4 linked regions of the Homo sapiens genome follow. The protein of the gene in region 3 purifies or fractionates together with the protein of the main gene of each other region. This does not show direct contact. Each region holds a gene or a part of one and is shown on either strand. Other genes may lie near its edges.

The links. Proteins that work in one complex are often made in the same cells at the same time.
Region 1: the proteins of DDX46 (region 3) and ELAVL4 purify together in Homo sapiens (co-immunoprecipitation; one large-scale study listed by IntAct). This does not show direct contact.
Region 2: the proteins of DDX46 (region 3) and SMIM20 fractionate together in Homo sapiens (co-fractionation; one large-scale study listed by BioGRID). This does not show direct contact.
Region 4: the proteins of DDX46 (region 3) and NAA30 purify together in Homo sapiens (co-immunoprecipitation; one large-scale study listed by IntAct). This does not show direct contact.

Annotation. Positions count from the first base shown.
Region 1 is NC_000001.11:50,192,420-50,195,919, reverse strand, and holds part of ELAVL4 (ELAV-like protein 4), read right to left. Parts: intron 2,156-3,500; coding exon 2,002-2,155; intron 360-2,001; coding exon 134-359; intron 1-133. UniProt on the Homo sapiens protein: RNA-binding protein that is involved in the post-transcriptional regulation of mRNAs. Plays a role in the regulation of mRNA stability, alternative splicing and translation.
Region 2 is NC_000004.12:25,927,266-25,930,312, reverse strand, and holds the end of SMIM20 (small integral membrane protein 20), read right to left. Parts: intron 2,001-3,047; coding exon 1,944-2,000; intron 1,160-1,943; coding exon 1,122-1,159; 3' UTR 501-1,121; downstream 1-500.
Region 3 is NC_000005.10:134,782,779-134,786,278, forward strand, and holds part of DDX46 (probable ATP-dependent RNA helicase DDX46), read left to right. Parts: intron 1-166; coding exon 167-287; intron 288-1,587; coding exon 1,588-1,763; intron 1,764-2,686; coding exon 2,687-2,808; intron 2,809-3,500. UniProt on the Homo sapiens protein: Component of the 17S U2 SnRNP complex of the spliceosome, a large ribonucleoprotein complex that removes introns from transcribed pre-mRNAs.
Region 4 is NC_000014.9:57,393,586-57,397,085, reverse strand, and holds part of NAA30 (N-alpha-acetyltransferase 30), read right to left. Parts: intron 335-3,500; coding exon 211-334; intron 1-210. UniProt on the Homo sapiens protein: Catalytic subunit of the N-terminal acetyltransferase C (NatC) complex. Catalyzes acetylation of the N-terminal methionine residues of peptides beginning with Met-Leu-Ala and Met-Leu-Gly.

The DNA of each region.
Region 1 (3,500 bases), on a different chromosome or scaffold from region 3:
GGAGTTTTGCACAGTGATTCCTGGGGGTGGAAGCTTTTACCCTTGCCCCATTTGTCAGGACCATGGGCTTCCCTGGCTCTTGCCCAGCTATGAACCCCTGTAGCAGGGCTTCTTCCTCTTTGGGCATGCCTACCTGAACCTCTGAGCCTGGTGGTGAAGTGGACCTGGGTAGCGCCGGTTGGGGGACTGGTAGAGCTGGGAGAGCAGGGCCTGGCTGGACTTCTGGCTGGGGTTGTTGGCAAACTTCACAGTAATCGGTTCCGTAGCACCGCTGGGCTTCTGGCCATTCAGCCCTTTGATGGCTTCTTCTGCCTCAATCCTCTTATCAAAGCGGATGAATCCCACCCCTCTGGACACTCCTGGGGAAAGAGAAAGAGCCTTTGTAAAGAGTGAACACACCAAACTGGTAAACATCTTTGGGAAGAGATGGGTCCTGTGGATATTGTGTGAGGAGTAAGCCCACCTGTGGTGCCAGGGCTGAGCCCAGCTCCCTGATCTCTCTCACCAATCAAAACACGTTTACCTGCATTCCTGCTATCATGGCTCTGGACTGATGCCTCCCAGCCACAGAACACAGGGCTCTCTTGCATCTGGCCCCTCTAGTCCTCTATCACTGCTCTGCCCCATCATCACCTCCCAAAAGTTACTATAACTGATCACTCACTGTCCAGTTTCTAGTCTTCTCATGTGTCCTCCACATGTAGCTAGTGTGCAATCTATTTGAAAAGTGAACTCTGACCACATGATATGCTTTAAAAACATCTTCTGTATCTCTTTTGTACTTTTTGAATTTTGTACCTTGTGCATAGTACCTATTCTTCACTGACTCCCATTCTAAAATGAATAACAAACAAACAAAACCTACAAAATACCCTTCCATGGCTCCATTCTGCACCCAGATAAAGTCCAGACTTCTTGGCACAGCATTCAATGCCTCTGGCAATCTGGCCCCAAATTCCCTATTGAGGCTCACACCAGCCACCCTGAACTGCCTGATCCTCCTCGAATAGACTGTTCTTCCTCGATTCCATGCCTTGGGATATGCTCTCCTCTCCACTTACACTGCTCTGTCCCTCCTTTTTGCTGGATACCTCTGAAACATCCTCCAAACTCCTATTCAAACATTGCCTCCTCAATGGGGCCCTCCTAGCAATTCCCACCAGGCATGGCACACCTTCTCCTGAGCTCTCAGGGGCACTTGACAGCTTCTAGCAAGTATTTGGACTCCACACTGGAGTCCTGTAAGGGTGGGGCAGTGCCTGCTTCTTTCTTGGTCTCCAGGGTCCCTCTGCACAATGTCTAGGGCAGAGCAGACTTCTGTGAAGGTTTGTCTCATGAATCACATGATAAACGTGCTAAACTATTCTCAGGGGGTGAGTTCTAAATTGGAATCAAATTGGAGGTAGGCGAAAACACCTTGTCATTAAAAGTGCAACCCAGAGTACCTGACATTTCTTACTGAGAGGTGGTGGCTGCCTTTCTTTATTATGGACAAAGAACACCAGTACCAGATCCTCGGTTCAGATCCTTGTACTGCTACTAACTAGCTTTGGGGAGTCAGATCCCCCACTTTCAACCTGTTTCCTCAAGTGTGAAATGGGACAATTCCTTCTAACTCTATAATGCTATGAATTGGAGTTACAGCTATGCATACAGGTTCTTTTCACATACAAAAGTAATGTTATTTGGTTGAGGGCTGAATCAGACTTTGAAGGTCATACAGTTCCACTCTCAGCCTGATGCCTGAATCCTTTTTACAACCCTGGCAAGTAGTTTAGCTGCTGCTAAAACAAGTCCCATGATGGAGAACTCCTACCTCCCAAGATGGCCCATTTTAAATTTGGGCAGTTGACCGATAAGAAGTCTTTCTTCCAAGTCAAAAATCTGTCTATTCATGATCCATATCATCTGCTTTAAGCAGCCATCAGCCTTCTGCTCTTATGAGTAACAGGGCTGATGACATTGATATACAAGGAAAGAAATTACAAAGAAACACTTAACCTGTGACTTGATCAACCAGGATTCGTGAGGTGATGATACGGCCGTATTGCGAGAAAAGTTGCTCCAGTTCCTTCTGGGTCATGGTTTTGGGAAGGCCGCTAACATAGAGGTTAGCATCCCTGATTGAGGCAGAGCTCGGACGGGCATATGAGACCTAGGAAAAGGCAAGAGGAGCTAATTCCATTATAGGCAATCACCCTCAGAGTAGATGCTGAGTCCACAACCAAGATGACAGCCCCTCATCTACCGTTACAACTCATGGTGTCAGTTTAAATCACTCAGTAGTTCAGATTTTTAGCTACCCTTGTAATAGTAATGAGAACCAGGAGAACAACAATAGAGGAACAACAGGAGAGTTGACAATAACTTAAAACAAATGCACAGATAAGGGTCTCTAAGTGCAGAACAAAATAGCTACTGTATGGCAGCTGTTAAATGCAGAGCTACCCACACATGGAGTTCTGAAGATTTACCTCCTGGAAGTGGGTGTATAGATGATTTACTGTATCCAACACATAATAATCTTTGAATAAACCAGAAAAAAAAAAAAAACCTCATGAAATTCTGCTCTGCACATTTCTCTCCTTGCCACCCTCCCTACCCCCATCCCCTTCTTCCTGAATACATAAAAGCAATCAGGTTCTCTGCAAGATTTTTTTATGTTCCATCCTTTGTGTTGCTCCAGTCTGTTCCCATGAGGTCTGCTCTCACCAAATGACAAAGTGCTGGTGAAATAGGGCTGAATGAACATCTGCTTGCGAAACTGGATATGTGACCTTGTCGTCACATCTGCAAGGACCAGTCGCCTCTAACTTTGAAGCAGGGCAGATAAAAACCACAACAAATAAAATGGGGGCAAGATGGAAAGGAGGGAGGGAAAGGGCAGTAGAGAGAGAGAAGAGAGCCTCACCAATGGTTATAATAAGTTCGACTTTGTAAATTTGTCCTCCCAGATCTCTCAACTGCTTTTCTTCCCCCCAAAAGCTAACACAGAAGTGTAAACAGATCTGAAATTCCATCTGCAAGAAGCCAAATCTGTAGCAGTACACATAAGCAAAGCAAACCCCAGCAGTCATTAATTTTAGACTTTCATTTACTTATTTATTTATTTTTTAAGAAAACAACATCAGACATTTGAAATATAATTTACAGCTAGTCTAACAAAAGCACTTTCCTGCTAAAGCTATTTCTGGGGTGGTTATGGCTCAGAATAGATGATGAAAACAGTCATTTCAGAGCACATCTGACAACGTTGGACAGGAAGAGACCTATATGCCTTAGCGTTTTTCAGTTGGAAGTTCTATTTAATCCATACAACTGATTCATAAGACCTATTAAGACTGTAGGGGTGAGAGTGTGTGTGTGTGTGTGTGTGTGTGTGTGTGTGTGTGTGTGTGTGCGTGCACACAAAAGCATGTGTGCAAAAGGAATTGAACACATTAAACCAGACCTTTGACATTAAGACCTAAACCTCCAGCAGTAATGTGGACCCTGCTTCT
Region 2 (3,047 bases), on a different chromosome or scaffold from region 3:
TGACACAAGTGGAAAATTCCACACCTGACCTCATGTGATGGTTTTAGTCAAAAGTTTGTTTCATGTACAAAATTATTTTAACATTATATCAAATTGCCTTCAGGCTATGTGTATAAAGTATATGAAACACAAATAAATTTCATGCTTAGACTTGGGTCCCATCCTCAAAATGTCTCATCATTTATATGCAAATATTCCAAAATCCAAAAAAATCTCAAGTCCAAAACACTTCTGTTCCCAAGCTTTTCTGGATAAGGGATACTCAACTAGTCTTCTCACTTTCATCTTTGCAGCACCTAGTGAGGTACCTGGTAGAGAATCACCATTCAATATTTGTCTCAACAAATTTGTTATTTACCTCTAAAACGTTTACCTGAGTACAAACAGATGAATCGCACACAGATACCTAGTCAAATATAATGTAGTCAAATTGTACTTCTCGGCACTATAATTTTAATTGCTTTACAAAAGATGATTTACAAAAAGACACCACTGCAAAGTAGAAATAAATCATTTTAATGTCTATTTTTTCACTTCTATTAATTGATTATTGATTTCTACACAAGTGTATGCATCTAGTTTGACTTGCTTCATATTTATTTTCCAACACGGTGCAATCTTCAGCATGAGGTGCACGAAGTACCTTGTCCTCAAAGAGCTTTATCAACTCGAACATTTTCGAAGAGCTCTATAAGGCAGCTCAGCATGGCAGTTTTTTACTGAAATCTCTTATCTGGAAGATGGCAGAAGAGACCCGGACCTTCCCGAGCCCACTGGTTGCTTGTATTCATATCACAGCTCGCTTGAGTAAGTGGTAACGACAGAATAATAAGCAGATTGCTCCTCCAAACCCAGCTGGGTGAGATAGCTTCATTTTTGGAAAATCAACTGAATCATGAAAACCTTCCTAATGGTATAATTTGTTCCAGAGTTCTTTTGATACTTAAGAAGGGAAATATTAATCCTTGTGCACAGTCTTTTATTACAAGCACTCTTATTTATGGTATTACAGAGTTTTCTTCTCCAGCCGTCATTCTCTGGTGAGGTGACTGGCTGTACCCCATGCAGAATCGAAAGCATGAAGAAATCTCCTTTCTTAATCAGAGCTGATGACAGCCCTCTCATTTCCTGCCAAATGGATCAGACCACACTTTTAACCCTATGGAAAGAAACAGGAACAAAAACAGGATTCATTTTTAAATGTCCTTCCACTTTCCTCCACCCCAAACAAACAAAATGACATCAGAACTGAGCTGTGCAATTTACAGTGTAGTTTGAGATGGTGTGAGCAGGCTGCCGGAACCTTGGCATTAAATGGCCAGGAAGCCATGGCTGCCATAAGGGACTTTTAAATGGCTCAGGAATTGTACCCCATAGCAGGAAGACCGACATCTGGCCTAGTTAAAAAATAAATAAATAAAAAAGAATGTTGCCACAGATTATAAGAGCTTTGGTTAATAAATGAGAAACCTCTCATTCCTGGCTAACTTGGATCCTCTGAAAGGAACTAACCATTCAGCCATAAAGGGAGCTTTTTAGCCCTTGTGCAAAGCAGAACCCCACATCAATTCAAACAGCTAACAAGTAAACACTATTTTCCCATGAGGGGAGTGTTTAAATAGGTGCTTGGTAAATAAGTCTGCCAAACAGCTATTCACGTCTCATATCGAATCACGCACTTGTTAACATTTTTATGCCCACTTATAAAATGGAAAAGAGGAACCTGGCAAACGTGCAAAAAGTATTCTGGAGTGAAATATTAGAATGACGCCTTGGGTGGCATCTATAAATGGCAACTGTTGAGAAATAAATAGCAAAATCACAATCTTGTCTCTAAGCTAAAAGGCATTTTCCCACTCTCCACGCCAAGGCAAACACACACAAACCCGCACAACACAGTAGTACAAATAAGATTTGGTTTTGATTTTTTTTTTTCAGTTTACCTGGTGGCTGCACATCCTCTTGAACAATTCCAGCCCGATTTATAGCTTGTTCCTTCTCTGAGAAACATAAGAGAAAAATCATTCTTTAGAAGGGGGGCGGGGAGAGAGAAATATTTGTATTTACATGGGCCAATGACATGGGACAATTAGAAAACAGTATTTATGAGTGCTGTTAAATTCAGATACGCTATTATGCAAAGCTTTTAGGTTGTGGAAGTTAGATCCTATAATGCAAAAGAGATTGGGTATTTTCAAAAGAATAAAGAAATCCATACTTCAAAAGAAAAGCTCCCCAACTAACATCTCTTCTCTGTGATCTCAGCATTTTGGAAAGACAAGAAAACAACAACAAAAAAAGAACAATTTTGAAAGAACTGGTGGGCGTGATATCACGAGGGGAAAGCTGCTGAATTGAAGGAACAAGTACAATTAAGAAAACGATGTAGTTTATATGTCTAAAATGCACTCCACCAAAGGACTAGACTCAGAGCTAAATATGCTATGTTTTTGATAGGAAATAGAGCAGAAAATTAATCTTTGGGTGGGTGGCTTTGGTTTGGATAATTGAAGCTTCCCTAATTGATTGCAGGTGCTGCGCCAATTAGCACATTGTAGCGACAGCAACTAAGCCAGTCTCTTTGGAGATGTCCAACAGGCAAGGGCCAAGAGAAATTGGGCATTTCATATCTGTGGGCTTGAAGCACTCTGACACATTTTTCTAAGTGGTTTAGAATAAACCCAAGGTCTGTAAAAACAAAGAGTTATTATTTTAAGTATCTTGACAAACAAATGACAGCTTTTCAGGAGAAAGCCTTAGAGCCAAAGGACGTTTACCACTAAATTATAGTAATGAAATGTCATAATCGGACCTTTGTTTTAATCAGGCTGACAGTGTTTCTTTAAATCCACATTTAGCTCTTATTTAGTATCAGGCCATTTTCTTTACTTTGGCCTCTGGATTCTCATAAAGTTACACAAACGTAACGGTACAAGAAACAGGGTTTGGCCAAATCTAATATTCATTGAACTTGCTTCTCTAGTCATGTGACAGAAAGTCAATCCTAAATGACCGACCTGATAGTTTTATCAATACTAAGTTTTGCT
Region 3 (3,500 bases):
GATCTGCCTGCGTCTGTCTCCCAAAGTGCTAGTTGCTAGGATTACAGGTGTGAGCCGCTGGGTCTGGCATAAGAGTTAAAGTTTGTTAATCTTATGCCTAATTGAAAAGTAGAAGACACCAATAGAACAATATTTAAGAACTTTTAATCTGGGTTTTGTTTTGTAGAGGTAAATGTGTTTCGATTGGAAATGGAGGGCATTACAGTTAAAGGAAAAGGTTGCCCCAAACCAATTAAATCCTGGGTCCAGTGTGGAATTTCCATGAAGATCTTAAATTCCCTCAAGAAGTAAGTGGTTGGTGGTTGTTTATGTTTTCCGTGTCTTGCTGCTCAAAATAGTCCTTCCACACCAGTGTCTCCCTGAGTTACATTTTTACTCTAAAAAAACCCTTACGTTTTAAAAAACTTTCATTGAGATAATTTATATATCAAAATTTACCCTTTAAATTATACAACTGGTTTTTTTTTGTTTTGTTTTGTTTTGTTTTTTGAGACAGAGTCTTGCTCTGTTGCCCAGGGTGGAGTGCAGTGGTGCAATCTCACTGCGCTCACTGTGACCTCGGCCTCCCGGGCTCAAGCAGTTCTCCTGCCTCAGCCTTCCGAGTAGCTGAAACTATAGGTGTGTGCCACCATAGCTGGTTATTTTTATTTTTAGTAGAGACAGGGTTTCACCATGTTGGTCAGGCTGGCGTTGAACTCCTGACCTCAGGTGATCCGCCCGCCTCAGCCTCCCAAAGTGCTGGGATGACAGGCGTGAGCCTCCATGCCCGGCCTTTTTTTTTTTTTTTTGAGACGGAGTTTCACTCTCGTTGCCCAGGCTGGAGTGCTGTGGCTCGATCTTGGCTCACTGCAACCTCCGCCTCTTGGGTTCAAGTGATACTTTTGCCTCAGCCTCCCAAGTAGGTGGGATTACAGGCATGTGCCACCATGCCTGGCTAATTTTGTATTTTTAGTAGAGACAGGGTTTCTCCATGTTGGTGAGGGTGGTCTCGAACTCTCTACCTCAGATGATCCACCCGCTGCGGCCTCTGAAAGTACTGGGATTACAGGCGTGAGCCACCAAGGCCGGCCTTTTTTTTTTTTTTTTTTAAGAGATGGGGTGTCGCTATGTTGACCAGGCTGGTCTCCAACTCCTGGCCCCAAATGATTCTCCCATCTCAGCCTCCCAGAATGCTGGGATTTCAGTCATGAACCACTGCGCCCTGCCTAATTTTTAAATTTTTCATTATCCCAAAAAGAAACTTTTGTCCATTAGTAGTCAGTCTTCTCCCCTCTCCCCACCCCTGGGCAACCATTAATCTATTTTTTGTCTCTAGAATAGATTTGGCTATTCCTAACATTTCATGTAAATGGGATCAAACAATATATAGTCTTTACTGCCTGATCTTTTTCACTTTACATAATGTTGTAAAGATTAGTCCATATTGTAGAATGTGTTAGTACTTCATTCCTTTTTATTGCCAAATAGTATTTTATTGTATGATATATACCACCTTTTGGAAGTTCATTTTTATGGGAACACATAGGACCTGTCTGGGGCCCAGCAATCTCAATTCTTACCTTTTCTTCCTTTGGTTTTCTTTTTAAGGCATGGCTATGAAAAGCCCACGCCCATCCAAACCCAAGCTATTCCTGCTATAATGTCTGGACGAGATTTGATTGGCATTGCCAAAACAGGAAGTGGAAAGACCATTGCTTTTCTGTTGCCCATGTTTAGACACATCATGGATCAGAGGTCATTAGAGGAAGGAGAGGGGCCAATAGGTACAATTCTTTTCATTAAACTATTTTTCAAATAACAGCTTTGTTGTCAAACAGAAAGACCTTATAGTTTATAATGTTCTTAATTATGACAATGAAGTTGTCTTTATGTACATTTTCTTTATCAATTTGGCACTTTGGGGCTGATTTCCCCTTACCAGCAGGTGGAGTGAGAATCTTCAGAGCTCTGGAGTGACATCTCAGAAGTACAAAAACAGCCTCTCCTGGCACAGCTCAGTTTTTAAACTCTGACTTGGCAGGTAGACTCCTCGTGCATCTATCTGTTTATTTATATTGAGGTTTGTTAGCCCAGTATCAGTGGATATATAAAAGCGACATGGAAGATATCCTAGGGAAACATATTTTCCTAGGTAGTTTTTGGCCTTAACAGGCTATAATGCCAGCATTTCATTCAAGATTACTTGTTTAGATTCTGGTTTCTTGATTCATCTTGGCAGAGATAACTCTTGGAAAGTTGAGTAGGGTTTTGGAAAGTTGTTCAGCTTCTCTCTTAGGAACACGGGGCATAGTATATCTCTCCTCTGTCTGTGCCCCTCAGACCAAGGTTGTTTCTGGAAGCAGCAGTATGGCTTCTGTGGCACAGTGAGTCACTTGATTTTCTTTGTTCTGTGATTTGCATTAGAAAACTGTTTGCATTCTTTTGAACCAAGTATTTTCCTGAGGGTTGGATGAGGCATTTAACTGTCATTTATCTTCTTTTAGCATGTTTTTAAAAATCTGCTTATATTTATCCTTCCCCACAACCTCTGCTGTTATACAACTTTTGAAATAGTTTTCAGGGATGCATAACAAAACAAAAATTAGGTGAAACAATCTGAACTTTATTGTAAAGGTTAAATTGAACACTATAAAGCACAGCCTTAAGAATTTTGGTGGTTAGGCTACTGATGTATTTATCTTTCCAGCTGTCATCATGACTCCAACTCGAGAACTGGCTTTACAGATTACTAAAGAGTGTAAGAAGTTTTCCAAGACTTTGGGACTTAGAGTGGTCTGTGTTTACGGAGGAACAGGAATCAGTGAGCAGGTAGTTATATAAGAAACATTCATGTTTTCCATTCTTTTCTCAAGTTGGATGATTCAATAAAGTAAAAGTGACTTTTACTTTTAGTTTTTTGAATAGTGATTGCTTCTAAAATCATTTAAAAAATGAAGTATAAAAATAATAGTAAGAATTAGTTATTTTATGTAGGATGAATACCTTTGGAGATGTAATGTACAGCATGGTGACTAGTTAATGTTATATTGTGTGCTGAAAATTCGCTAAGCCAGTAGATCTCACATCATGTTTTTTTTTTTTCTTTTTTGAGATGGAGTCTCGCTCTGTCACACAGGCTGGAGTACAGTGGCGCGATCTCGGCTCACTGCAACCTCTGCCTCCCTGGTTCAAGCGATTCTCCTACCTCAGCCTCCCAAGTTGCTGGGACTACAGGTGCCTGCCACCACGCCTGGCTAATTTTTGTATTTTTAGTAGAGACGGGGTTTCACCATATTGGCCAGATTGGTCTTGAACACCTGACCTCAGGTGATCCTCCTGCCTCGGCCTCCCAAAGTGTTGGGATTACAGGTGTGAGCCACCGTGCCTGACCAATCTTACATGTTCTTACCACAAAAGAAAATATTGGTAACTATATGAGGTGATATGTTAGCTTGATTGTGTTCATCATTTCAGAGTGTATATGTATATCAAACATGTTGTACACCTTAAATATATATAAT
Region 4 (3,500 bases), on a different chromosome or scaffold from region 3:
AAACTGTCAAACAAAACATTAATAAAGAAAAAATTCATTTTAAGAACTTTTTAAAAATACCATTTTGAAATTAAAAATTAAAACCCGCCTTAATTTTCTTCCCTTAGTTTCTTTCATTTCTACATACTTACATTTAAGTCTTTTATTTCAAAACACAACAAAAATGAAAATAGCTTAGGCATTCTTTCCATAAAATAATATTTTTCTTACCAATGCCATTTCTCCTGTATTTGGAATCCACGGCTAACATGGCTATATAACCTCTGCGGAACATCTTTTTGTGCATATCCAACTTGCAAACGATGGCACCTACACACTCCTCCCCTACCATGGCCTTAAAAATAAACAAACAGTTATGAAGAATACATTGCCATCAGGTACTGCACAATTATCCAGAGAAAACAACAACCAACCATTGGTAAGCATTTTCGACGGGGGAAGATAATGGGAACTCTTGCAAGACAGCAGTCACAGAAGTTTCAGAAATCTAAATCCCCTAACTCCTTTAAATGTTCCAGTGTTAAAATTTCTCAATATTCTTTAGAACATGAATTTTTTATGCTTACTATTAAAGCCTAGGGAAAAAAGACAAGATTCCACAAGGTAAACATTCAAGTACTTTATAAGATTACATATGAGGTGCTTAAAATCACAATTATTTGCAACAAAGACCTAAGGTTCTGGAAGGGGAAATATGCAAAAAAAAAATGATTATAAAGAAAAAGTCTATTCATTAGGACATAAAATATTGTAAAACTTGCCCATCAGCAGAATGTAAATTTAAATATATTCAGTTAAATTTAGTAATAATGGCCAGGTGCTGTGGCTCATGCCTGTAAACCCAGCACTTTGGGAGGCAGGCGCAGGCAGATTGCTTGAGCTCAGGGGTTTGAGATCAGCGTGGGCAACATGGCAAAACCCTGTCTCCACCAAAATTACTTAAATTAGCCAGGTGTGGTGGCATGCACCTGTAGTTCCAGCTACTTGGAAAGCTGAGATAGGAGAATGGCTTGAGCCAGGAAGGGAGAGGCTACAGTGAGCTGAGATCGTGCCACTGCACTCCAGCCTAGGTGACAGAGTGAGACCCCATCTCAATAAAAGAAAAAAATGAAAATAAATTTAATAATAAAGTTTTAGTGAAAGCCAGATATAATACATATTTACACCTGAATGGTAGATTTCGATCAGGAAAAAAAAATTAAAAATTTTCAGAAAAAGCACAGTTTATAAGGTATTGCTTAGACCATACCCAAGAGGTTTTTGTTAATATATGTAAGTGTAGCATAGTCTCATTTTTAGGATACTCCTGATAGTGTGGATAACTGTCATAAAGCTCTCAGAATATTTATAGTTCAAAATCAAAGCTTTATGTTAAAAGCTTTAATTTTACAGAAATTTCTATTTTAATAAAAACGTACAGCTTTCCAGAGTATTAAAAGCTACATGTTAAATTCTAATCATCCCCCATTTTCATTAAGATTTCTAGTGTTACCATTGAAAATGTTTTTCAAAAATTCCAATGCTGATAAAAAGTTCTAGTAACACAGTATTTCTGGTAAATATAAATAGGGCAGTATCTCCAACTGTTTAAATAATGTGTCAGTAAGAAGTCTGTTTTCCATAAATTAACTTTCCAGAAGAAACTATTTCAACAAAAGCAGAAATGAGTCAAAAAACTAATAAGTAATGTCCAATTTATAATTAATACATATTTTAAATTTGTGACTTTTTTAGTCTGTCATTCTGTAAATTGATTAAAAGGCCTTTTTTTAACTGTGGAGAAATCTTTTCAGCAAGATAATTCTAATCCATTTCATGCAAACCTAAACTAGGTCGGAAAAATCCTTTTGAAGGAATATGAAATTCAACAACCCACGCTAATTCATTTCTGGTTTATCACACATTCCAAAACTATTTTGGGTCAATAAACCTCTGAAATTGTTATTTCTAATTTTTTCCCTCACAATACATCAATCTTTTAAAAAAATTTTTTAAACAAAGACCTGAAGTATGCACAAAAATCGCCTCGACCAACTCTGAAAGCTTTTTCTGATTTGAAACTCACTTCAAATATATGTGCGTATATACAGACACGTATAAATACATACACATACATAAAATTATCACAGACCAAATGGTATATTTAAAAGGGCCAGAAAAAATTTTGGCCTGACCTCATAAGCCAGGCTCAGGTGAAATGAAAACCTGTATTAGATTGATGATACAAACCTCAGAATAGCTACACCTTATATAAAACTATCCAAAAATGAGGAAAAATTAAAACCATTAAACACAATACAACTGGACAGTACTTTCAATCTGAACAGGAATTTCAAACAAATCTTTGTCCTTTGAGCATGGAATAAGCAAACAAAATATTAAATTAGTTCATTCTTAAGACCTGATTTCTTCCTAATTTAGAATCTATAGGAGCAAAAATCAAGCTGTATACATCATCTAAAAAGCCCAATATATCATACACCATTACGATGACATTAGTAGTGAAGACCAATGCTGCATTTTTTTTTCCTGATAAACTACTCATGAATATGTGGTACATTTACAGGAATCACTAAATTGCTTGTCAATTTTTCCAAATAAAAGCTCTGCATATACATTTGGAATTCACGCTATTAAATGTATTTTTTCAAGGATGGGAACTGAAAAATCCCCGGCAAGATTAAGACTTAACACTACAAGGCCAAAGGGTTGTCAGTCTATAAAACTATGAAAAAAATAAAGTGAGAGATTCCCAAATTCTAGAACACTACAAATAGAAAACTGGAGGAAGCCAAAAAGTTAAATTTAGAACAAATAAATGGAAGTACTATGTTACATTTGCTGAGAGTAAGTTTAAGAACTTCAAAAAGATACCAACAACTGAAAATGTTACTATGAAAACAGGTAAAGATAAAATGGTTAAGTACAGAGTAACTGAAAGTGTCTCACATTTGTCCTTTTTTTTTTTTTTTTTTACATCTTTTACAATTAGGAAGAATCATAATAAGCTATCATTTTTATTAATCAAGTATTGGCAATTTTGTAAGGTTCAACCCCATATACTCCATTGACCCATTACAGGTTATCCACGGAAAACGGAACATTTTGGAGGTTTTTAATCTCTTGAGATTGATGTAAGGGCAACTGTCCCTTGGTGAAGATAACTTGGTGACACAATAATCTTCACTGAATGGATCAAGGGTATGTCATTTTTCAGGTTCTTGTTTGTTACCATAATGAGAGGCCAGGAGAACTGGGTTCTAGCTTTACCCTTCCGACGGTAAATATCTGGAGATTGAAACATTTTAAGTCACTTTGGTTCTTAACTTCTTTTCAATCAAAAAACAAAACAAAACCTACCCCTCTGTCAGTAAATATCTGGAGATTGAAACATTTTAAGTCACTTTGGTTCTTAACTTTTTTTCAATCAAAAAACAAAACAGAACAAAACCTAAGTTGGGCTAGATTATCTCTAGGATGGCTTTCAGTTCTAAAAGGAT